Homo sapiens: one gene and its partners. The protein of the gene in region 3 interacts with the protein of the main gene of each other region in a pairwise test. Each region holds a gene or a part of one and is shown on either strand. Other genes may lie near its edges.

Region 1 (3,500 bases), on a different chromosome or scaffold from region 3:
GCGACAAGGGCAAGACTCCGTCTCAAAAACTAAAAAATAAAAAATATATATATATATAATTTTATTGCTGTCAATTTGTTGTTTTTTTTTGAGACGGAGTCTTGCTCTGTCACTCAGGCTGGAGTGCAATGGCATGATCTCTGCTCACTGCAATCTCCACCTCCCAGGTTCAAGCAATTCTCCTGCCTCAGCTTCCTGAGTAGCTCAGGTTATAGGCGCCCACCACCACGCCCAGCTAATTTTTGTATTTTTAGTAGAGAAGGGGTTTCACCATGTTGGTTAGGCTGGTCTCGAACTCCTGACCTCAGGTGATCTGCCCACCTCAGCCTCCCAAAGTGCTGGGATTACAGGCGTGAGCCACCGCACCCAACCTTGCTGTCAAAATTTTGAAAAAATATTTGTATAATTTTGCTTTGGAAATAGGTTGGCTACCAGTAACTGATTTAATTTGTAATTGACTATTAGTTTCAGCAATTATCTTACCATACTGGGAAATTTTTATGAAGTTTATGAAGAAATAAATCCAGCCCTACATATTACTTCCAAATTATGTATTTTCGATTACCGGATCAACAATTAATGAAGTTAACTTCACATTTGCATAGACCTTTAACATTTAGTAATTTCAGTACTATTGTTATTCTGTTTTGAAGCCAACCAATGGTTTTTAAGGTCTCAGACGTTTGTTTAGCTCTCTGAAAAGCTGGAAGCCCCGAGGCACTGCACCTTAATGCCCAGTGGTTAAAAATGCTCTGACTGGTTATTCCCAAGCCCTGAGATCTTCACTGCCTTCTTCAAAGAATAAAAGCTGGTTTAGGGGACAGCAAGCTGGCATACAAATATACCAGTCTACTCCAAGAAGGTGACTCTCTAAGAAAAACAAAGTAATTGGAGGCAGAATCCCTGTGTTGCAATTAATTCACCAGGTTACCTTGAACAAGAGCTCTGCAGCCCTTTCCCTGCCCCTCAGTACAGCTTGAGCATCCCTAATCCCAAAATCCAAAACCCACAATGCTCCAAAATCCAAAACTTTTTGAGCACCTACATGACGCCACAAGCAGAAAATTCCACATCTGGCCTCATGCAACAAGTACACATGAGTGTTAAAAATGCTGCATAAAATTAGCTTCAGGCTATGTGTGTAAGCTTTATATGAAACATAAATGAAATTCATGTTTAGTCTTGGGTCCCATCCCCCAAGATATTTCATCATGCTTATGCAAATATTTCAAAGTCCGAAATCCGAAACACTTCTGGTCCCAAGCATTTCGGATAAGGGATACTCAACCTGTAGTGCCTTTGCAAACAAACACCTCATCTGGCCTAGGTGATGGCCCACAGTCATCAGTTCTATGGAACCGAAAGGTATGCCACACCATCTGAACCAGAAACAAGGGCTTCCTCTCACACATTGAGGAAAGCCATTTTTATGTCTGTATTATTTTGCCAAAATTAAAGAAGGAAGGGAAGGGAGAAAAGAGTAGAGAAGGGAAAGGGAAAGGAGAAGGAAGGAGAAAGGACTACACCATCAACATGTTTAGAAAGCTACTGATCTTTTGGCTGGGCCCCGTGGCTCATGCCTGTAATCCCAGCACTCTGGGAGGCCAAGGCGGGCAGATCACCTGAGGTCAGGAGTTCAAGACCAGCCTGGCCAATATGGTGAAACCCCATCTCTACTAAAAATACAAAAATTAGCCAGGCATGGTGTCGTGCACCTATACTCCCAGCTACTCAGGAGGCTGAGGCAGGAGAATCACTTGAACCTGGGAGGCGGAGGTTGCAGTGAGCCAAGATCGCGCCATTGCACTCCAGCCTGGGTGACAGAGCGAGACTCCATCTCAAAAAAAAAAAAAAAAAAAAAAAGCTATTGATCTTTAACTTCTGTGCAAAATTACAAGTATCTTTTCTTCAGAGAGAATGGCTTTCATGTGAGATACTCCCATCATCCCATTCAAATGTTGTCTATCATCTGTTTTTGGTTTGGTTTGGTTTTTCAGTTGGGGGCCAATGGGATGTAACTCAAAGAACATCAGTTTCAGAAGCAGCTCATGCTCTGTTCAAAGCCAGTCCTGTCACTATCACTCAGCAGTTCTCAAAGTGCAGGCCAGGGATCTCTAGGGTGCTCCAAGGGTCTTTCAGAGTGTCCATAAGGTCAAAACTGTCTTTATAATAATAGTATGATCTCATCTGCCTGTTTCACTCTCATTCTTTTCATGAGTGAATTTTCCCAGAGACTACAGGATATGTGATATTGTGACAGATTGAATGCATACGCAGATATCCAAATCCAACTGGCTGCTATGAAGCCAGACATTCAAGATATTTATAAAAATGGAAAACAATGCCATTCTTCTCATTATGTATGTCTGTGTGTATGGGGGGGGGTGTTCTGGAAATATAATTTTAACTTTTAAAATGTTTATGGTAACACGTAGTGGGATTATTACTGTTACTTTTAATTTTTTGGTTTTTTTTTTTTTTTTTTTTTGAGACAGAGTCTCGCTCTGTCACCAGACTGGAGTGAAATGGCAGGATCTTGGCCCACTGCAACCTCCAACTTCTGGGTTCAAGCGATTCTCCTGCCCTAGCCTCCCAAATAGCTGGGACTACAGGCACATGCCACCATGCCCAGCTAATTTTTGTAGTTTTGGTAGAGATGGGGTTTCACCATGTTGGCCAGGATGGTCTCGATCTCTTGACCTCGTGATCCGCCCACCTCAGCCTCCCAAAGTGCTGGGATTAAAGGCGTGAGCCACCGCAACCGGCCTTATTGTTATTTTTTAATGAATTTTAAATTCCTTAATCTTAATGTCTAATATGTTAAATATTGATAAATATAACCCACATAGAAAAAGCTTAAAAGAGTTCATACCTATAACTAAAAAGTTTGAGAAGCCCTGCACTACCTAATTGTAATGACTGTTTATTGATTATTGCTTTGTACCATGAGCTGTGCAAAGCATACCACATTCTTCATCTCTTTTAATCTTTGCCACAAGGCTGTAAAGCAGAGGCTTTAAAAAAGGGCACCTTGCTAGCCCAGCGTCTCACCACTGGACAAGAAAGAGATCACCAGGTCGGTTCTCTGACTCTGAAGCCACACCCTTGGTCACTTTCTCTATAACTTTAAAAAAGATTCTTTTTAACTGCTCTGAGCCTCAGTTTCCTTATCAAAAATAGTCAGAATGAGGTACCCCGTAGTGTTCTCTGAAAAGCAGAAGAGTTTCTATGCATCCAGTCCTTACATGGGGGCCAACAGCAAATGCTCCCCCAGAAACTCTTCACCTCCCTTCCTTCCATTCCTTCCTTTTCTTTGACGTTAGACCAGAGAGGCTTATCAACTCTCCATTTTCCTCTAGGTGGTCTTCAAGCTGACAGAGAAGCTGACGGAACAGAAGGAGTGGATGAAGATATAATTGTGACCCAAAGTCAGACCAACTTCACCTGCCCCATTACAAAGGTACCGCTTCCTCCTACTTCCCCTGAAAGAAACACGATTC
Region 2 (2,938 bases), on a different chromosome or scaffold from region 3:
ACCGAGATCGCACCATTGCACTCCAGCCTGGGCAACAAGAGAAACTCCAGCTCAAAAAAAAAAAAAAAAAAAAAAAAAGAAAGAAAGAAAAAGAAAACAGGAGGATTGGGCTATTTCCACATCAGGGTCCCATTTAATACCCCCTTAAAACATCAGCTTTCCTTCCAGAGACTGATCATTGAGAAAGCAGTACTGCTGACATAGATCCTGCCTACTTATAAATCATAATGGTTGGTAATCTCCATTAAAAAGAATAAATTTTCCCCACTGTGGTTCAGATGACGAGTTCCAGTTATTACAGAGAAATTTCATGGACAAGTACTACCTGGAGTTTGAAGACACAGAAGAGAATAAACTCATCTACACACCTATTTTTAATGAATACGTAAGTAGATTTCTATGTCTCCTACCAGGAGGTCAGAGTTTTTAAAAATTTAAATTTAGATTCAAAAGACATTGAAATTTGCTGCCTTTTAAAATATGCCACCAGTACACTTCCAGGAATCCTCATTAGCATCTGGTTTAAGTTCATTTTCCTCTGCACAGCCTTTGGGGCTATTTTCCAAAAGGCTTTCAGGCAAATATTTGATTAACTCATCAGCTTCTTATTTAAAAGAAGTTTGACCTGGGCTTGGTAGCACACCTGTAGTGCCAGCTATTTGGGAGGTTGAGGTGGAAGAATCACTTGAGCTTAGGAGTTTGAGACCAGCCTGGGCAACACAGCAAGATCTCTGTCTCTAAAAAAAAAATGATAATAATAAAGATAATAAATAAAAGACGTTTGGCTTATCATAATCCTGCTTTTAATCACAGTACATGAGTTCTTCATACCTTGCATTTGCATGCTTTTGACAAACCTTTCTGCTTTCACATACTCTTTCTTTCTTCTATATAATCCAGTCATATATGCATGACTATTAAGTAAAAGTGAAAACTGAGACCAAGATCACTAACTATTTGGTGGAAAAACCAAGACTGGAACCCAGGAACCTCAGCTCGTCACCCTTGGGTCTCTACACTTTACCCTGAGGCCTCTTAACAGCCCCCTGGGATTCTGTCATCTAAGAATCCATTTTGGCCTCCAGGACTTTATTTTCTTAACACAGAAGCATGGCATAAACAAACCTGCCCAGAAGGAACCTGTGACTGCCTCCATGTCCGTATGTTCTGTTACACAGATGCCCTCTACCCAGGAGGCAAAGCCCCCACTTACTGCATCCTGCACTGGGTTGTGGGTGTGGGTACCGTGCTACTCACTGTCTCCACCTGTGTCAGAGCATCCACCCTGTTACAGCACCATTATCAGCTAAGGCTTCTCTTCCACACCAGGCTGAGTACTTCTCCAGGACAGGAGCTGTGTTTTGGTCCTCTTTGGTATCCTTGGCACTCAGTGTAGATTGTGGCACACAGACCTCAGGAAATGTTTAGAAAGGGCTGGGCAGGCTTTCTGAAAAGAAGTCTTGTTTTCCCAAAGTATGGTCTCACCAAAATCCTTTCCACTGTTGCAGATTTCTTTGGTAGAAAAATACATTGAAGAACAGCTGCTGCAGCGGATTCCTGAGTTCAACATGGCAGCCTTCACCACAACATTACAGTGAGTTGAGCTTGACTGATTTTTGTGTTTTGTTTTGTTTTCTCACTTTCTTCCTTCCCTAGGCTGACCAAAAGACGCTCCTTGTTTGTTTTCCTGTGCATGCCGTTGGTGGTTAGGTCCTATGGAGGAAGCCCTCAAACCTTTTAATGAAATCTTGAAAAGATCAGGCATTGGCTCACGCTTGTGTTCTCAGTGCTTTGGGAGGCCAAGGGAGGAGGATCACTTGAGCCCAGGAGTTCAAGACCAGCCTGGGTGACATAGTGAGGCCCCGACCCTACAAAAAATAAATTAGTCAGGTGTGGTGTTGCATACCTGTGGGCCTAGCTACTCAGGAGGCTGAGGCTGGAGAATCCCTTGAGCCCAGCAGTTCAAGGCTACAGTGAGCTATAATTGCACCCCTGCACTCCTGCCTGGGTGACAGAGCAAGACCCAGTCTCTAAAAAAACAAAACAAAAATAATGCGGGGGGTGGGGCTGGGGTGGTGGAAAGAAAAACGAAAGCAATCTTGAGGACTGTCTCATCATTCATTCACGAAACAGCCATCTGTTCCGTTTGCAGGCACCATAAGGATGAAGTGGCTGGTGACATATTCGACATGCTGCTCACCTTCACAGATTTTCTGGCTTTTAAAGAAATGTTTTTGGACTACAGAGCAGTAAGTTACTACTCCTATTTATTTAGCCACTTTGAGCCACTTAGAAAATTCCAGGTAGAAATACCGAACATGAACCTCCCACGCTTCCCCCATCATTCTCCCTTCAAACTGGCCGATGAGGCATCAGAAGAGTGAGCTGCTATTCTGTTGTGGCTGGGACCTTCTCATGTTTTCATGAAACAAGCCCAGGTACCAACTTAGAGTTCCTAATCAGAAGGACAAAACCGAAAAAGCAGGTCTCAGGTCTCATTCTGCCTTGCCTTTCTTTTATTTATTTTTTTTTTTGAGACAGAGTTTTGCTCTTGTCACCCAGGCTGGAGTGCAGTGGCACCATCTTGGCTCACTGGAACCTCTGCCTTCCAGGTTCAAGCAATACTCCTGCCTCAGCCTCCCGAGTAGCTGATACTACAGGCACCTGCCACCACGCCCAGCTAATTCTTGTATTTTTAGTAGAGACAGGGTTTCACCATGTTGGCCAGGCTGGTCTCAAACTCCTGAAGCATGGTCCGCCTCGGCCTCCCAAAGTGTTGGGATTACAGGCGTGAGCCACCGCACCTGGCCCTGCCTTGCTTTTCATATAATGCAAGCTCTTTATAAGAAAAATAGGAGACTGGGCATGGTAACTCACACCTATAATCCCAGCACTTTGGGAGGCCGAGGCAGGCAGATGGCTTGAGCTCAGGAGTTTG
Region 3 (3,500 bases):
AGACCACTGAGCCCCAATCCCCTCTTTTCTCTTCTGACTATTTCTGGTAGTTTTTGGCCCATTTAGTCACATGGTGGGATTGCCAGCCATTGTGCGTTGAGGACGTATCAATAGAGGCAAGATTCACTAGGAAAAGGAGAAGACCATGAGCTCTGCTCCATGTCACTTGGTTCCTGCTTCTCTGGGGGCATCCAATTCCAGCTTTTGGAGAGAGCAGAATGGTGATTATTATTATGGGAAGGGACCTGGACACCAACCATGGCTTGGGAGGGACAGTGGGAGTGAAAATAGGCTCTGAAGCCACAGGGATGGAGGTTCAGATTCTGGCTTAGCCACCTAATAGCTGTGTGAGTAGGTGACTTCATCTTTCTGGACCTCAGATTCCTCTTCTGTAAAATGAGAGTGATAATCTGTGCCTCCTGGCCTGGCTGCGAGGATGCAGTGACATCTTTTAAAGGTAGGCGGTAGAAGGTGTTCAGTAGCTATAGTTATCACAATTAGCCGGTAGGCGAAATATCTGAAGCGCTGTCTGGAGGCAGAGGAGCAGGAGTGTTCTCCTGGAGTTTCTGAGTCAGGGAGACAAGGTGGAAGGGACCTCTGATGGACAGATCTGGACATGTGAGCAGATGCAGGATGTGTCTGGAGGAGGTCAGACTCCATGGGGAGGGTCACAGTGGATGTCCTTGTGATCCTTGCCTGCCTGGGAGCTATCTCAGGAGCCTGGCCCCTCCCTCACAGCCACCCTTCCTCTCCATCTCTCTATCTCCTACAGGTGCTGGGCCCCAAGCCGGCTCTGCCTGCAGGTACCGAGGACACCGCCAAGGAGGATGCGGCCAACCGCAAGCTGGCCAAGCTCTACAAGGTGAGCACCAGATGCACTGTCTGCCTGGGCATGGGGTCAGGACAGGGAGGTGGAAGACTTGGTCTTCCCCACTCCACTGCTATGGGACCTTGAGCAAAGCACCCCTTTGGAGGGGGGCCTCAGCTTTCTCACGTCTCCAGTGGATGCTCGTGTACTTCCTTTGCTTTCCTGCACTAAGAGCATGCGATCAACTCCGTACATATCTGTGTCACGCTCATACATGAGGTCTCTCTGAGTCTCAGTGTCCTAGTCTGTAAAGTGGGAAGAAGAGCAGAATGGTCGACTTTGTAGGATTTCTGGGAGTCCACAGATAAAATGGATGTGAAAACAGCTTAGAAAATACTTGGGGAAATACTACAGAAATGGTGTGTATGTGGGGAGGTTGGGGGTGTGGGTTATAGTTAATGACTTTATTTATGATTTCTTTCTTGTGATTTTCACAACTGAATTCAGGCTTAGCTTCAGCTAGGGAACTCTCTTGGCTGAGCTCTGGGAGAAAGCTCAATCACACTTACGTTGTGCCCCAAGTATTTTCAGTAAAACAACAAAAAGGGGATGTCGATTTTCACCACTGCCAAAGAAAAACTACTACATTATCGATTTTTTTTCTGATTATGAAGTAATACATGTTTATTGTAAGAAAAAAAAGTATTCAAAATATAAAAAGAAAATAAAAGTCCATGCAATTTCACTGGTTTAAAAAACCAGTATTACTTTTAAAATATGTTTTAATTACAAAAATGACAATACCCAGTTAAAAAATCAGCCTCTCCTCCTCATGAGAGAACACATCTTTGTCCAGCCACAGCTTTCTGTGCCTAGTTACTTTTCCATTTCCATCTTATTATTTTATTTTGAGATAGGGTCTTGCTCTGTCACCCAGGCTGCAGTACAATGGCACAATCACAGCTCACTGCAACCTCTGCCTACCGGGCTCAAGCGATCTCTTGCCTCAGCCTCCTAAGTGGCTGGGACTACAGATGTACGCCACCACGCCCAGCTAACTTTTGTATTTTTTGTAGAGACGAGGTTTTGCCATGTTGCCCAGGCTGGTCTCAAACTCCTGGGCTCATGTGATCTGCCCACCTCAGCCTCCCAAAGTGCTGGGATTACAGACCTGAGCCAACGCTCCCGGCCATTTCTATTTTGTGTAACTGGATCCAAACTATTCATGCTGTTGTGTGGTCTTTTTTCCACTCAACATGGTCGGGAATATCTTTCTATAATAAATCTCAACACGACCCTTTATAACAGCTGTATAGTATTTTATTTTATGAATGTAAGAATTTAAGCAAATCCTGATTGATGGACATTAGGATGTTCCACCTTTTCCAGTTGCAGACAGTCCCTCTTGGTGCACTTGTGCTAAGTACAGCATAGCACTAGGGCAAGTTCCTAGACAAGGAACTGCTGGTCACAGGCCGAAGAATGAGTCAGTAGTTGAAAATACTGGTTCTGGGCCAGGCATGGTGGCTCACCCCTGTAATCCCAGCACTTTGAGAGGCCGAGGTAGGCGGATCACCTGAGGTCAGGAGTTCGAGACCAGCCTGGCTAACATGGTGAAACACTGTCTCTACTAAAAATACAAAATATTAGCCAGGCGTGGTGGCGGGTGCCTCTAATCCTAGCTCTCCTCCTAAGGGAGGAGAATCACTTGAACCCGGGAGGCGGAGGTTGCAGTGAGCTGAGATAGTGCCATTGCACTCCAGCCTGGGCGACAACAGTGAGACTCCGTCTCAAAAATAATAATAATAAATAAAATAAAAAAAGAAAATACTGGTTTTGGAGTCAGGAGTCAGACTACCTGTGTTTGAATTCCAGGTCAGCTATTTCTAGCTGTGCAAGTTCCTTAACCACTCTGTGCCTTGGTTTCCTTGTGAATGAGACAGGGATAGTAACAGAACTATCATATGCAAGGATTAAAGGGGTTCTATAATTATACAAGTTATAGAAATTGCTTAGAACAGTGACTGGCACAGAGTAGTAAGTACTCAATTCATGTAGAATAATTATTATTTAAAGGACTGCTACCTCACAGTCAACTGTACTCTGGAACAGCTCCCAAATTACTGTCATCAGGGATCTTAAATGCCTGTTTACCCAGAGCCTTGCCAACTGGATATTGTTAAACTTTTGAATTTTGACTCTTAAGATAGAACTTTTTTTTGAGCTTGGTTGAACTTTTTATTTTAGAATAATTTTTAAGTTTACAGAAAAATTGTAAAGATAGTACAAAGAGTTCCTATATACCATTCACTCAGCTTCTCCTTAGCATCTTAGCATAACCAGGTACATTTGTCAAAACTAAGAAATTAACATTGCTTCAGTACCATTAACTAAACTATAGACTTTAGCCAGATTTCCCCAGTTTTTTATTCTAGGTTCCAATCCAGGATACCAGATTGCATTTAGCTCTTTTTACTTTTCTTTTTCTTTTCTTCTCTTTTATTTACTTATTTATTTTTGAGACAGAGTCTGGCTCTGTTACCCAGGCTGGAGTGTAGTGACGCAATCATAGCTCACTATAGCCCCGACATCCTGGGCTCAAGTGATCCTCCCACTTCAGCCTCCCAAGTAGCTGGGGCCACAAGCAAGCGCCACCACACCTTGCTACTTTTTGTATTTTTTGTAGAGATGG
Region 4 (3,500 bases), on a different chromosome or scaffold from region 3:
TATTTAAAAAGCTGATTTCTGGACCTCCACCCCAGAAAAGTCCAGTTGAGTTGGACAGAGGTAAGGCCCAGAAATCCTTGTTTGTAATCAGCATCCAATATTGAATAAAATTGCTTTAGGGGGTGGAAGCCATTGAATATTGAGTATGTGAATGACAGGAGCAAATTTGTCCCTCCGTATTTGAACACGCTGACTCCAGTGGATAATGAAGTGGAAAGGAGTGGGATAAGATGCAGTTGTAGTAATCCAGGAAAGGGCCATGGATGAACAGTGTGGTAGACTAAAGATAAGCCCGGGAGACAGATAAAAGAAACACACAGGAAGGCCAGGCGTAGTGGCTCACACCTGTAATCCCAGCACTTTGGGAGGCTGAGACGGGCGGATCACGAGGTCAGGAGATCAAGACCATCCTGGCCAACACGGTGAAACCCCGTCTCTACTAAAAATTTAAAAAATTGCCAGGCACAGTGGCTCACGCCTGTAATCCCAGCACTTTGGGAGGCCGAGGCGGGCGGATCACGAAGTCAGGAGATCGAGACCACGGTGAAACCCCATCTCTACTAAATATACAAAAAAATTAGCCAGGCATGGTGGTGGGCACCTGTAGTCCCAGCTACTCGGGAGGCTGAGGCAGGAGAATTGCCTGAACTCAGGAGGTGGAGCTTGCAGTGAGCCCAAATCGCACCACTGCACTCCAGTCTGGGCGAAAGAGTGAGACTCCATCTACAAAAAAAAAAAAAAAAAAAAAATACAAAAAGTACAAAAAATTAGACCGGGCGAGGTGGCGGGTGCCTGTAGTCCCGGCTACTCGGGAGGCTGAGGCAGGAGAATGGCGTGAACTTGGGAGGCAGAGCTTGCAGTGAGCCGAGATCGCGCCACTGCTCCAGCCTGGGGGACAGAACGAGACTCTATCTCAAAAAAAAAAAAGAAAAAAAAACAAAAAACACACGGGAGATGGAATTGGTTAAATCACGTGACTACTGGAAGGTGAGAGATAAAAGCACAATAAATATTTCCAAATTTCTGATTATGCTACTGGATAGATGGTGAAGCTGTTCTTTCAGTGAGGAAAGGAACATAGGAAAGGAATTGTGTTTGGCTGTTTTTGTAAGACATGAGTGTGATGTGTGGGTGGCTGTAGTATATAAAATAAGTAGGATGAAGCTATGCAGTTGTGTATTGAGCTACTGGATGAAGAGAATGGAGAGAGGCTATTGAACAGGAAGAATATTAAGAGATAGGGATTACCTCCAAATTCCTAACACTGCTTTAACCCTAGAGCCTTCAAATCTCTTTTCTTGGATTTCCCCATCTGTGAAAACGGAGGTAGAAACAGCCATGGTAGCATAAAATAATCAGCTATATCAGTGGCAGCCTTAAGATTGGAAAACCAGGAAAGGACATTCTTCTTTTCCCTTTCTGCAGAACTGGTCTTCAGGGTCTCCTGTTTCTACTCTCTCATTTTTACTGCACCCTTTTCACTCTCTCCCTTCCCGTCGTTCCAGGGTGGAGAGTTCTGAGGAGCCTGTATATGAGAGCCTTGAAGAGTTTCACGTCTTTGTCCTTGCTCATGTGCTTAGGAGGCCCATAGTCGTCGTGGCAGACACCATGCTGAGGGACTCCGGAGGGGAAGGTGAGTCAGCCAGTCAGTCCTCACTCCATGCTGAGCACCCCCTTTTGCAAAGCCTTAGGCTAAGCATTGGAAGGAAGGCAGGAAAGGGGATATATAGACCCTTGGGGAAAAAGCAAGTTATCAATTAGAATAGTGCAAAATTCTCAAGAGATTCTGAGTAAAGCAGTTGGGATTAGTTGACAGGGCTTCTTAGGAAAGAATTATTAAACATGTTGGAATGAAAGCAGGGAGGGACTCAGTTGGCAGAGTGGGATGTAGGGATTGTCCACTAGGCAGAAACACAGCCTTCATAATAATCTTCATGGCTTCCTGCAGCATTTGCCCCTATTCCCTTTGGAGGAATCTATCTGCCTTTGGAGGTCCCAGCCAGCCAGTGTCACCGCTCCCCTCTGGTGCTCGCCTATGATCAGGCCCACTTTTCTGCACTCGTGTCCATGGAGCAGAAGGAGAATACCAAGGAACAAGGTGCTGAATGACATGTCTTTTGGTCTGCATTATTTTCACTTGAAAAAATTGAATGAGATCTAATGTAGGAGGAAAGAATTAAGTGACATGCAAGCCCAGACAGCACATGTTGATACTGTTTTATTAAGCCAGAAGTTACGCCAGAGTTTTCAAATTAAAAAAAAAAGGGTTGGGAGAAAAGCAAGACCTATATACCCTCTTCTGGAGTAAAGGCTTATGATTAAGGTGTAAGAGCTTCTAAATGATGCTTTTCTAATTTGTCTTAAATTATGACTGAATTCTCTGAATATACATTAACTGGAAAGAACATCATGAGAGTTAGTTGACTGACTGGTGGGGACTCAGGGAGATTTGTGGCCTAAAACATATGCTGCGTGGTAGCGGGAAAACTAGCCAATTAGTTTTAATACCGGGGTAATTCACGTGTAAGAATTGAGAAGTGACTACAATTAAAGACCTTAGTATGATTTTAGTGAAATAAGTCTGTGTTCAGTTACCTTTCTCTCTTAAGGAGATTCCTTGATGATATGTTTCTTCCTCTCCAGCTGTGATCCCACTTACAGATTCAGAGTATAAGCTGCTGCCCTTGCACTTTGCTGTGGACCCTGGAAAGGGCTGGGAGTGGGGCAAAGATGATAGTGACAATGTCCGATTGGCCAGGTAAGCCAGGCCTAGTCTTTTCATCTATTTTGTGCTGGGATTTCTTCCACATGTGGCATCCATCTCCCAGGGATTTTTCCTCAGCTCAGGCAAGACAGTCACAAGCTAAGATGAGTTTTGGGAAGATGGGGAGGTAGAGGAGAGGTTGGGCACCAGGACTCTTTCATGGTGCAGCTGCTTTTTCTCCCTGTGAAAGAGATGGGAATCCTAGCATCTCAACTTGTTCTTTTCTTACAATAGGAAAAGTGTTCATACACTGATTCATCTCTAAAACATTGATCAGAAAATCAGGATAATCAGGCCGGGCATGGTGGCTTATGCCTGTAATTCCAGCACTTTGGGAGGCTGAGGTGGGTGGATCACGAGGTCAGGAGTTCGAGACAAGCCTGGCCAATATGGTGAAACCTCGTCTCTACTAAAAATACAAAAATTAGCCAGGCGTGGTGGTGCGTGCCTGTAATCCCAACTACTAGGGAGGCTGAGGCAGGAGAATCGCTTGAACCCAGGAGGCAGGGGTTGCAGTGAGCCGACATCGTGCCACTGCACTACAGCCTAGGCAACAGAGTGAGAGTCTGTCTCAAAAAAAAAAAAAGAAAGAAAGAAAATCAGGATAATCAAATCACATGTCTTAGCCCAAGTGAGAGGAGTTTTAAAGAGTTGATCAAGGCTGGGTGCGGTGGCTTATGCCTGTAATCCCAGCATGTTGGGAGAAACCACCATCAGAGTGAACAGGCAACCGAGG
Region 5 (3,500 bases), on a different chromosome or scaffold from region 3:
ACTCGTCAAGGCCAGAGAAAGAACCTCCAGAAATCAATAGACTGAACAATTTCTGGAGCTCACACAAGGCTGGGAATAATTTTCAATCTTGCCAACCAGAATGGAAAAATGTCGTAATATGTCAACGTCAGGTAGGGTAATCAGAAGGGTATATTACTTTAGAAAATGGGCTAAGTTAGCCCTAGATTAAAGGCTGCTCTTGAGCCACTCTAACTAGGCTTTATTTAAGCCTCAGAAGGAACAAAATGATGTCATACCATGTTAACTGCATGCCAGAGTTAAATTCAATAGAACTGAAAGAACTACAACAAAATCCAGCAAATACAAAATTCACCAATATGAATTCATCAGTACAAACAATATGAAATTCATCATATTTGGCATCCAGTAAAAAATTACCAACCAGAAGAGACAAATCTCCAGGGCAGCAAAATTTCAAATAATTTACATTAATACACTACCCTCAGGGAGAGGGAGCATAACTATCCCCTCCTTAAGCGTGGGCTGTGCACAATGACTGCCTTCCAAAGTATACAAGTATAGAAGGAGGGAAAAAGAGTACAGTGGAGAAACCTGACAGACACTTCCTCAGCCAGGTGATTAAAGTCAACATCAATAGTCATAAATCATGTTGACGGTATGAACACTTAATGTGATGTGATGACAATGACACTTTAATGCTACTGTCTTCCTCTCCCAATTAATAACCCAAATTTTATGAGGAAAACATCAAACAAATTGCAATAGTGCAGCATCCTTACAAAATATATGACCAGTACTCCTCAAAACTATCTAAGTCATAAAAAATAAGGCAAGCCTGAGAAACTGTCACAGCCAAGGGGCACCTAAAGAAAATGACAACTTAGTGTAATGTGGCACCTTAGATGGAAACCTAAAACAGAAAAATGACATTAGGTAAAAACTAAGAAAATCTAAAGGAACTATGGATTTCAGTTAATAATGTATCAATTTGGTTCATTAGTTGTTAAAAATGTTAAATCTAAGATGTTAATAATAGAGAAAAGTGAGGATGGGGCATATAAAAAACTCTATACTATCTTCTCAGTTTTTCTGTAAAATTAAAAAATCTAAAAGTGTCCTAAAAAATAAAGCCCATTAAAAAGAAAAAGATTACTAGCCATACAAAGCAGCAGGAAAATATGACTCTCAGGAGAACAATCAAACAATAAAATCAGGCCCAGAAATGACAATGATGATAGAATTAGCAGACAAGGATATTAAAATGGATAAATGTCTTCCATTTTTTCAAGAATGTAGAGGAAGGCATGAACATGGTGAGAAGAGATAAGAAAGATATAAAAAGACCCAAATGAAACTTCTAGAAATGAAATGTATATAAAATGAAAATATCTTGAACAATATTAACAGAAGGTTAGACCATGCAGAAGAAAAGATGAGAACTTGAATAACAATAGAAACCATTTAAAATAAAGTGTGAGGTGAAAAAAGGCTAAAAAAGTACTGAATATCGATGACATGAGACAACTTGACAATATCAAGTTGTCTAAAATATGTAAAATTAGACTCCAAGAAGGAGAGGAGAAAAGGGGTTGGTAAAAAAGTATTTGAAGAAATACCAGCTGATATTATTCAAAATTTGATGAAAATTATAAACCCTTAGATCCAAGCAGCTCAATGACGCACAAGCAGAATAAATACAAAGAAAATCACACCAAGACCACGTATAATCAAATTGATGGAAGCAAGTGACAAAAAGCAAGTCCTAAAATTAGCCAGAGATGGCCAGGTGCGGTGGCTCACGCCTGTAATCCCAGTACTTTGGGAGGCCGAGGCGGGCAGATCACGAGGTCAGGTGATCGAGACCATCCTGGCTAACATGGTGAAACCCCATCTCTACTAAAAATGCAAAAAAATTAGCCGGGCGTGGTGGCGGGCACCTGTAGTCCCAGCTATTTGGGAGGCTGAGGCAGGAGAATGGCGTGAACCTGGGAGGCGGAGCTTGCAGTGAGCCGAGATTGCACCACACTCCAGCCTGGGTGACAGAGTGAGACTCCATCTCAAAAAAATAAATAAATAAAAATAAATTGAAAAGGCAAGCCATGGAGTGAGAAAAAATATTTAAGAAACATATATCTGATAAAGGATTTGTATCCTTTACAACTTAATAATACAACAATTTAACAAAAATATAGACAAAAGTTTGAACACAACCAAAAAAATATATGAATGGCAAGGAAGCACCTGAAAGGACGCTCAACAGGATTGCTCATTAGGGATATGCAGCCGGGCACCACGGCTCATGCCTGTAATTTCAACACTTTAGGAGGCTGAGGTGGATGGATCACTTAAGGCCAGGAGTTCAAGATCAGCCTGGCCAACATGGCAAAACCTCATCTCTACTAAAAATACAAAAATTAGCTAGGCATGGCAGTGCGCGCCTGTAATTCCAGCTACTGGGGAGTCTGAGGCGCAAGAATCACTTGAGCTTCGGAGGCAGAGGTTGCAGTGAGTTGAGATGCACCACTGTACTCTAGCCTGGACATCAGAGTGAGACTCTGTCCCACCCTCCCACCAAAACAAGAGATATACAAATTAAAACCACAATAAGATACTACTATACATTCAATAAAATGGTTTAAATTAAAAAGATTGACAATATCAAGTTTTGGAAAGGATATAGAGAAACTGGGATTTTCACTAATTGCAGGATGGATAAAACTACCATGGACTACCCCATGTCCATCAACTGGGAAATGAATAAGTAAACTGAATAAATAATCATGATTATTGATACATGGAACAACATAAGTGCTCAAAAAGCATTATGCGGCCTGGCGCAGTGGCTCATACCTGTAATCCCAGCACTTTGGGAGGCTGAGGCGGGCAGATCACGAGGTCAGGAGATCGAGACCATCCTGGCTAACAGGGTGAAACCCCGTCTCTACTGAAAATATAAAAAAATTAGCCGGGCATGGTGGCAGGCGCCTGTAGTCCCAGCTACTCGGGAGGCTGAGGCAGGAGAATGGCATGAACCCTGGAGGCAGAGCTTGCAGTGAGCAGAGATGGCACCACTGCACTCCAGCCTGGGCAACAGAGCGAGACTCCATCTCAAAAAAAAAAAAAATTATGCTAAGTGAAAAAAACCAGAAGACACAAAACACTACATAATGTATGCTATCACTTAGACAAAAATTTAGAAAAGACACATTTAAAGTGAAATAAAACATGTCAGTGAATGTTAGAGGCTGAGAGTAGAAGGAAGAGATTGATTTCAAAGGGGCATGTAGGAACTTTTTGGAGTGATAAAAATCTTCTATATTTTGATTATGGAGAGGTTTACCTAAGTGTATATATACATCAGAACTCATCAAATTGTGCCCTTAAAATTGGATAATTTTACTCTATGTTAACTATATCTCAGTATAGTTGATTTTTCTTCAATGTCAATTACCTGGAAAAATTTGCGATTTTTCATTAAATCAGGGATATATTTGTGATTTCTCATTAAATCAATAACC
Region 6 (3,500 bases), on a different chromosome or scaffold from region 3:
TACAGTGAAACCCCATCTCTACTAAAAAATACAAAAATTAGCCGGGCGTGGTGGCATGTGCCTGCAGTCCCAGCCACTCTGGAGTCTGAGGCAGAGAACTGCTTGAACCCAGGAGGCAGAGGTTGCAGTGTGCTGAGATCGAGCCACTGCACTCCAGCCTGGGCGACAGAGTGAGACTCCGTCTCAAATAAATAAATAAATAAAATAGAATTGATGACACAAAATATTTCTCAATTTACAAATTACCAACTGGCAGAGAAGCTGAAAAGTTGAGAAAAATGCTAAAAGAGCAGTGGACATCTTACGCTCAATCAGAAATAAAAATAAAGCATTTCTGAAATTAGAAATACAAGGCAACAAATTTAAAAATTTATAAAAAATATGATCTGCACACAACATTTTAGGGCAAATTATCTATTTGAAACCCAATGCAATATTCTTCTACTAGGCAGAGAAATACTTTTCCACTTCACCTTTACTCCTTAATTCCACTTGATACTTACATTGCTATGCCACATGCAGAGCACATATCCTCTACTTTGTATTATAATGATAAATACAAAATCAGCCGGGAACAATGGCTCACATCTGTAATCCCAGCACTTTGGGAGCACAAGGCAAAAGCATCACTTGAGCCCAGGAGTTCAAGGTCAGACTAGGCAACACAGCAAGACCCAGTCTCTACAAAAGAAAAAAATGTATTTATGTATGTATTTTTTGTTTGTTTGTTTTGTTTTGAGAGAGTCTCACTCTGTCGCCCAGGCTGGAGTGCAGTGGCACGATCTCAGCTCACTGCAAGCGCCACCTCCCGGGTTCAAGTATTCTCCTGCCTCAGCCTTCCGAGTAGCTGCGACTACAGGCACCCGCCACCACACCCAGCTAAATTTTTTTGTATTTTTAGTAGAGAGGGGGTGTCGCTGTGTTAGCCAGGACGGTCTCAAACTCCTGACCTCGTGATCCGCCCGCCTCGGCCTCCCAAAGTGCAGGGATTACAAGCGTGAGCCACCGCGCCTGGCCTACAAAAAATTTTTTAAAAATTATCCAGGCACAGTGGCACATGCCTGTAGTCCCAATTACTCAGGAGGCTGAGGCGGGAGGATCACTTGAGCCCAGGAGGTTGAAGCTGCAGTGAGCTATGATTGTGCCACTGCCCTCCAGCCTAGGTGACACAGTGAGACCCTGTTCCAAACACACACACACACACACACACACACACACACACACACAAAGCCAAACTCTTTAAAGACAGGAGTGTTAAATACACTTCACATCCGCCACAATAGACAGCAGTGCCTTGTATATACCAGTCATCAATAAATGCTTGATGAATGAGGATTATGATTTTTTTTTTTTTTTGAGACAGAGTCTCAGCTCTGTCACCCAGGCTGGAGTCCAGTGGCACAATTTCCGCTCACTGCAGCCTCAACCTCCCAGGCTCCAGCAATTCTCCCACCTAAGCCACCTGAATAGCTGGGGCCACAGGCGTGCACCACCACACCTGGCTAATTTTTTCTTGTAGAGATGAGCTCTCACTATGTTGCCCTGGCTGGTCTCAAACTCCTGGGGCTCAACCAATCCTCCTGCCTCGGTCTCCTAAAATACTGGGATTAAGGGCAAGAGCCAAGGTAACTTGTCACTGATGCTGTCAATTTCAAGTGTCCTGAAAATTAAAACTGAAGTCTACCAATTAGAAATGTCTACCAATTAAGGTTACTTCTATTTTTAAGGTCTTCTCCTGAATAACCAAACAAGATCACATTTCATATTACTGCACAAACTAACCTCACTGAGAAACAAACAGAATTATTCTCTGAGATACTAAATTCCAGACGACAAAAATCTTCCTATTTTTAAAACAAGGTTCTTGGCCAGGCGTAGTAGCCCACGCCTGTAATCCCAGCACTTTGGGAGGCCCAGGCAGGTGGATCACCTGAGGTCAGGAGTTCAAGGCCAGCCTGGCCAACATGGGGAAACCCCGTCTCTACTAAAAAGACAAAAATTAGCTGGGTGTGGTGGCAGGTGCCTGTAATCCCAGTTACTCGGGAGGCTGAGGCCTGCGAATGGCTTGAACCCGGGAGGCAGAGGTTGCAGTGAACCAAGATCATGCCATTGCACTCCAGCCTGGGGAATAGAGTGAGACTCTGTCTCCAAAACTAAAACTAAAACTAAAATAAAATAAAACAAGGTTCTTTAGCCATACAGCCAAACCACTCAGTGACAAAATCCACCATGTTTTGATGCTTGCTCAAGCTCAAGTTTGCCATCAAAGCACTTTACCCTTAAGTCACTATATTAAGTCAATGATAATAAATATCGTATAAGTGACACATTTCTTGAGGGCAGAGACTCTGACTACACCCAGCATCTAAAACAGTACCTCATATCTGGTAGGCATACTCCATGAATATTTGCTGAAAGAATGGCATTCATGACTATCTCACGGACTTCCATGACATATTCCAGGTGCTTCTCACCATTGCTCATATCTACCCATGAAGTCCTCCTTTTTTGGGAAGGTCTCGCTTTGTTGCCCAGGCTGGAGTGCACTGGCACGATCTTGGCTCACTGCAACCTCCACCTCCTGGGTTCAAGTGATTCTCCTGCCTCCTGAGTAGCTGGGATTACAGGCATGCGCCACCATACTTGGCTAATTTTTGTATTTTTAGTAGAGATGTGGTTTCCCCGTGTTGGCCAGGCTGGTCTTGAACTCCTAACCCCAGATGATCCACCCGCCTCAGCCTCCCAAAGTGCTGGGATTACAAGCCACCCATGCAATCTTTCAATATCTCATGACCACCCTCCTCTTCAAAGCCAAGAGAACCCAGGTATAGTATGAAAGTATCTCCTGCTTTAAATGATACATTAAGATGCTTTCCCCTCAGTATGCAAAATTCTAAAGTCAAATAAATCATCAATATTTCAGAAGTCAGCAAATAGCCCTTAATGGAAAAGAAACACAAGTTTCCAGTCATTCAGCAACCCTCTGTGACCTACTAAATTAAGTACAAGATTTCTCAAAGTAAATCTAATACAAAAAGTTACAGACTTCTAAACCTCTTTCTAAATTATAAAAGGGGAGCCAGGGAGGTGTGAAAAATTACAAAAGGGGAGAATGGTGTGAACATGACCCTCTCTGAAGCAGTAAAATATCTAAAACAAGTCTGTGGGGGGGAAATTTTTTTTAAAGGCATCTAGTTCACCCTCCCACACAAAGCAGGAATTCCTCCAATGTCACCAACAGGTGGTCCTGCAGTTTTTGACAAAGAGACAGAACATTTCCCATATGAGCATTCCCATAACAGAACGCTCATTCTCTCTCAAGTCAACCCATTACCTTCTTCTTTAATCAGGATCTAAAAATACTTTAGCTTTTATCAACTGACTCTTCTTCTGGCCCCAACTTCATCTCAGCATCATGAACATAAAGCTCTTCTAGCCGGGCATGGTGATTCACACCTGTAATCCCAGCACTTTGAGAGGCCGAGACGGGTGGATCACAA
Region 7 (3,500 bases), on a different chromosome or scaffold from region 3:
GCCGGGAGCGTGAGCTGCGTGAGGCTGCACGCCGGGAGCAGCGCTATCAGGAGCAGGGTGGCGAGGCCAGCCCCCAGAGGTGAGCCAGAGGTGGAGGCTGGCCTGGGGGACCCACCCTGAGGCATTGCTGGGCACCTGCTCCATCCCATGGAGGCGAGGAGGACTAAGGGGTGTGGCATGAGAAGCTGTGACTGTGCCTCAGCTGTGCCCCACCCGGCCCTTCCCAGCAGGACGTGGGAGCAGCAGCAAGAAGTGGTTTCAAGGAACCGAAATGAGCAGGTAAGATGGGGGTGCTCTACTTGTTTGGACCTGTCCTGGCCACACGCAGAAGTCCCTGATCTCGGATTGAGGGCCCAGCCCAGACCTGGGCAGAGGCTGCCCTGCAGTCAGCTGGGGCAGGTTGGAATCTGGGCACCTCAAGAGGTGGCAGTAGAGAGGAAAGCCAAAGGCGGAAGCGTCGGGCTTGGACCACACCTGGTCCTGGGGGAGGCCCTGGGAGCCCCTTGGCTTCTGTGTTTTACTTCCTTTTTTAACGTTACTTTTTATTTTTAAATGACTTCTCTCCTGAGAACATGTTTTGCCTCCTGGCCCCACACTCACCTTTGAGGGGCTACTGGGCCGACAGCTGGAGGGGCTGTGATCTGGGGAGAGGTGGTGAAGGTTTTGCCCACTGCAGGGGTCAACATGTGCTTCCCTCCAGGAGTCTGCCGTGCACCCGAGGGAGATTTTCAAGCAGAAGGAGAGGGCCATGTCCACCACCTCCATCTCCAGTCCTCAGCCTGGTGAGCTCTCCCTTTGGGCCTGGCCATGAGGCAGCAGCAGGCTGAGGGGGAGCCTGGGGTCCTATGTGGGCTCCCCCAAGGCTAGTGACAGATATATCGGTGACGGGTGAGTGAGTGAGGAGAAGGGACACCTGGGGCCATTGACCTCATCAGTGACCACACTGGTCACCAGTTTGGCCTCCAAAAGATATTGGGCTGCGCTGTCTACCACGTCACCACATAGCACATGGCCCTGGGGCCTCTGTTCCTGCACTAGCAAGAGCAAGCCCCATGAGACTGCCTCGAGCACACCAGGGTGGAGGGTGCTGTGGGGTGCGTGGGTGTGTGGTGGTGTTTCTGAAGTGATGTATATATTTACCCGGGTTTGCAGGCAAGCTGAGGAGCCCCTTCCTGCAGAAGCAGCTCACCCAACCAGAGACCCACTTTGGCAGAGAGCCAGCTGCTGCCATCTCAAGGCCCAGGGCAGGCAAGGCGCTTGTCACCCCATGGGGACCCTGGGGGACAGCAGTGGAGAAGGGGGATGTGTGGGAGTGAGAACCTGCTGTGTTCCCTGGTGCAGATCTCCCTGCTGAGGAGCCGGCGCCCAGCACTCCTCCATGTCTGGTGCAGGCAGAAGAGGAGGCTGTGTATGAGGAACCTCCAGAGCAGGAGACCTTCTACGAGCAGCCCCCACTGGTGGGTTCCTACACTGGGGCTGGGGCCAGGAAGGGGCTGCATACTCAGGAACACTTATCACGGGCCGCCTGAGTTTTCTGGGGGCATGCAACAGGTTTTAAAGCACATGCATTTTTGGAGCAGCCCTGTGTTATAAATTGTCAGGGCACGCCCCACTCTATAGGAGGTGCTGGGTGGGAAGAGGACCTTGCAGCCTATGGCTGAGGGATTTATGCACTGTCCTGTGGCTTCTGTACTCTGGTAGGGCGGGGACAGCAGCAGCCCAGCCCCCGAGCCTGTAGACTGCTTGCCCTCTGCGTACTCCCAGCTTGACCTGAGCCATGTGGGGCAGAGCAGCGATTGTGTGTAAGGGCTGAGTCTGGGGTAACACCTTTGTCATCCCTGGGCAGGTGCAGCAGCAAGGTGCTGGCTCTGAGCACATTGACCACCACATTCAGGGCCAGGGGCTCAGTGGGCAAGGGCTCTGTGCCCGTGCCCTGTACGACTACCAGGCAGGTAAGGTGCCCTGGCCTGGCTGGCACAGACCACAGGGTCCTGAGGTTAGGAGACAAGAGGGTCTGGGGTTTTATGGGAAGATGGCACCAGGGGGTATCAGGAAGAGAAGACAGGAGGGTGGGCGGTGCGTTTAGGGGTAGAAGCACCTCTGGAGTGGGGGTGACTGTGGCACTAGAGTGTTCTGCACAGCCCAGGCCTCCCTACATGTTCCTCATTAGCTATTTGCTGGCCGCTGATGTGAATCCCAGTTGCCACCCTTGTCACAGAACATGGACTCTGAGCAGGGAGGTGGGCCAGGCCTGGATGCTGGTTCACCAGGCGTCCCTGGGTGGAGGCCTTGGAGAATGGGGTGGAGGCCCCCTACGGAGCAGGCTGGTGTCTACTCTAGCCTTTTTTGGGAATGCTCTGTAGGAGGGTATGCCCTGGGGGTGTGGTCACTGGAGCCGCATTGGGACAGGGTGCAGTGTTGGCCAAGGCTTAGCAGGGTGGCAGGGATATTTCTGAGGAGGAACCAGAGCTGCAGCGAGGTGTGCTGCAGCAGTGTGGGGCTGCCGTGGGCTGCCCGAGCAGGTGGGATGTGGGAGGGAGCCCCTGATATGCATCTGGGCTCATCCTCTTTGCAGCCGACGACACAGAGATCTCCTTTGACCCCGAGAACCTCATCACGGGCATCGAGGTGATCGACGAAGGCTGGTGGCGTGGCTATGGGCCGGATGGCCATTTTGGCATGTTCCCTGCCAACTACGTGGAGCTCATTGAGTGAGGCTGAGGGCACATCTTGCCCTTCCCCTCTCAGACATGGCTTCCTTATTGCTGGAAGAGGAGGCCTGGGAGTTGACATTCAGCACTCTTCCAGGAATAGGACCCCCAGTGAGGATGAGGCCTCAGGGCTCCCTCCGGCTTGGCAGACTCAGCCTGTCACCCCAAATGCAGCAATGGCCTGGTGATTCCCACACATCCTTCCTGCATCCCCCGACCCTCCCAGACAGCTTGGCTCTTGCCCCTGACAGGATACTGAGCCAAGCCCTGCCTGTGGCCAAGCCCTGAGTGGCCACTGCCAAGCTGCGGGGAAGGGTCCTGAGCAGGGGCATCTGGGAGGCTCTGGCTGCCTTCTGCATTTATTTGCCTTTTTTCTTTTTCTCTTGCTTCTAAGGGGTGGTGGCCACCACTGTTTAGAATGACCCTTGGGAACAGTGAACGTAGAGAATTGTTTTTAGCAGAGTTTGTGACCAAAGTCAGAGTGGATCATGGTGGTTTGGCAGCAGGGAATTTGTCTTGTTGGAGCCTGCTCTGTGCTCCCCACTCCATTTCTCTGTCCCTCTGCCTGGGCTATGGGAAGTGGGGATGCAGATGGCCAAGCTCCCACCCTGGGTATTCAAAAACGGCAGACACAACATGTTCCTCCACGCGGCTCACTCGATGCCTGCAGGCCCCAGTGTGTGCCTCAACTGATTCTGACTTCAGGAAAAGTAACACAGAGTGGCCTTGGCCTGTTGTCTTCCCCTATTTTCTGTCCCAGCTCATCCGTGTCTCTGAAGAACAAATATG

What was found.
Region 1: the proteins of GSN (region 3) and NSMCE2 interact in binary tests that used the Homo sapiens proteins (3 or more experiments, as listed by UniProt).
Region 2: the proteins of GSN (region 3) and ARL2BP interact in binary tests that used the Homo sapiens proteins (3 or more experiments, as listed by UniProt).
Region 4: the proteins of GSN (region 3) and OTUD7B interact in binary tests that used the Homo sapiens proteins (3 or more experiments, as listed by UniProt).
Region 5: the proteins of GSN (region 3) and TRIM69 interact in binary tests that used the Homo sapiens proteins (3 or more experiments, as listed by UniProt).
Region 6: the proteins of GSN (region 3) and WDR20 interact in binary tests that used the Homo sapiens proteins (3 or more experiments, as listed by UniProt).
Region 7: the proteins of GSN (region 3) and DBNL interact in binary tests that used the Homo sapiens proteins (3 or more experiments, as listed by UniProt).

Annotation. Positions count from the first base shown.
Region 1 is NC_000008.11:125,353,860-125,357,359, forward strand, and holds part of NSMCE2 (E3 SUMO-protein ligase NSE2), read left to right. Parts: intron 1-3,359; coding exon 3,360-3,460; intron 3,461-3,500. UniProt on the Homo sapiens protein: E3 SUMO-protein ligase component of the SMC5-SMC6 complex, a complex involved in DNA double-strand break repair by homologous recombination. Is not be required for the stability of the complex.
Region 2 is NC_000016.10:57,248,259-57,251,196, forward strand, and holds part of ARL2BP (ADP-ribosylation factor-like protein 2-binding protein), read left to right. Parts: exon of another isoform or gene 1-278; coding exon 279-385; exon of another isoform or gene 386-1,508; coding exon 1,509-1,594; exon of another isoform or gene 1,595-1,713; intron 1,714-2,152; coding exon 2,153-2,249; intron 2,250-2,938. UniProt on the Homo sapiens protein: Together with ARL2, plays a role in the nuclear translocation, retention and transcriptional activity of STAT3. May play a role as an effector of ARL2.
Region 3 is NC_000009.12:121,313,162-121,316,661, forward strand, and holds part of GSN (gelsolin), read left to right. Parts: intron 1-772; coding exon 773-862; intron 863-3,500. UniProt on the Homo sapiens protein: Calcium-regulated, actin-modulating protein that binds to the plus (or barbed) ends of actin monomers or filaments, preventing monomer exchange (end-blocking or capping).
Region 4 is NC_000001.11:149,948,227-149,951,726, reverse strand, and holds part of OTUD7B (OTU domain-containing protein 7B), read left to right. Parts: intron 1-1,505; coding exon 1,506-1,633; intron 1,634-1,948; coding exon 1,949-2,098; intron 2,099-2,643; coding exon 2,644-2,758; intron 2,759-3,500. UniProt on the Homo sapiens protein: Negative regulator of the non-canonical NF-kappa-B pathway that acts by mediating deubiquitination of TRAF3, an inhibitor of the NF-kappa-B pathway, thereby acting as a negative regulator of B-cell responses.
Region 5 is NC_000015.10:44,760,528-44,764,027, reverse strand, and holds part of TRIM69 (E3 ubiquitin-protein ligase TRIM69), read right to left. Parts: intron 1-3,500.
Region 6 is NC_000014.9:102,146,397-102,149,896, reverse strand, and holds part of WDR20 (WD repeat-containing protein 20), read right to left. Parts: intron 1-3,500. UniProt on the Homo sapiens protein: Regulator of deubiquitinating complexes. Activates deubiquitinating activity of complexes containing USP12. Anchors at the base of the ubiquitin-contacting loop of USP12 and remotely modulates the catalytic center of the enzyme.
Region 7 is NC_000007.14:44,058,202-44,061,701, forward strand, and holds part of DBNL (drebrin-like protein), read left to right. Parts: coding exon 1-79; intron 80-227; coding exon of another isoform or gene 228-230; coding exon 231-279; intron 280-676; coding exon of another isoform or gene 677-700; coding exon 701-782; intron 783-1,152; coding exon 1,153-1,248; intron 1,249-1,341; coding exon 1,342-1,457; intron 1,458-1,846; coding exon 1,847-1,952; intron 1,953-2,575; coding exon 2,576-2,715; 3' UTR 2,716-3,500. UniProt on the Homo sapiens protein: Adapter protein that binds F-actin and DNM1, and thereby plays a role in receptor-mediated endocytosis.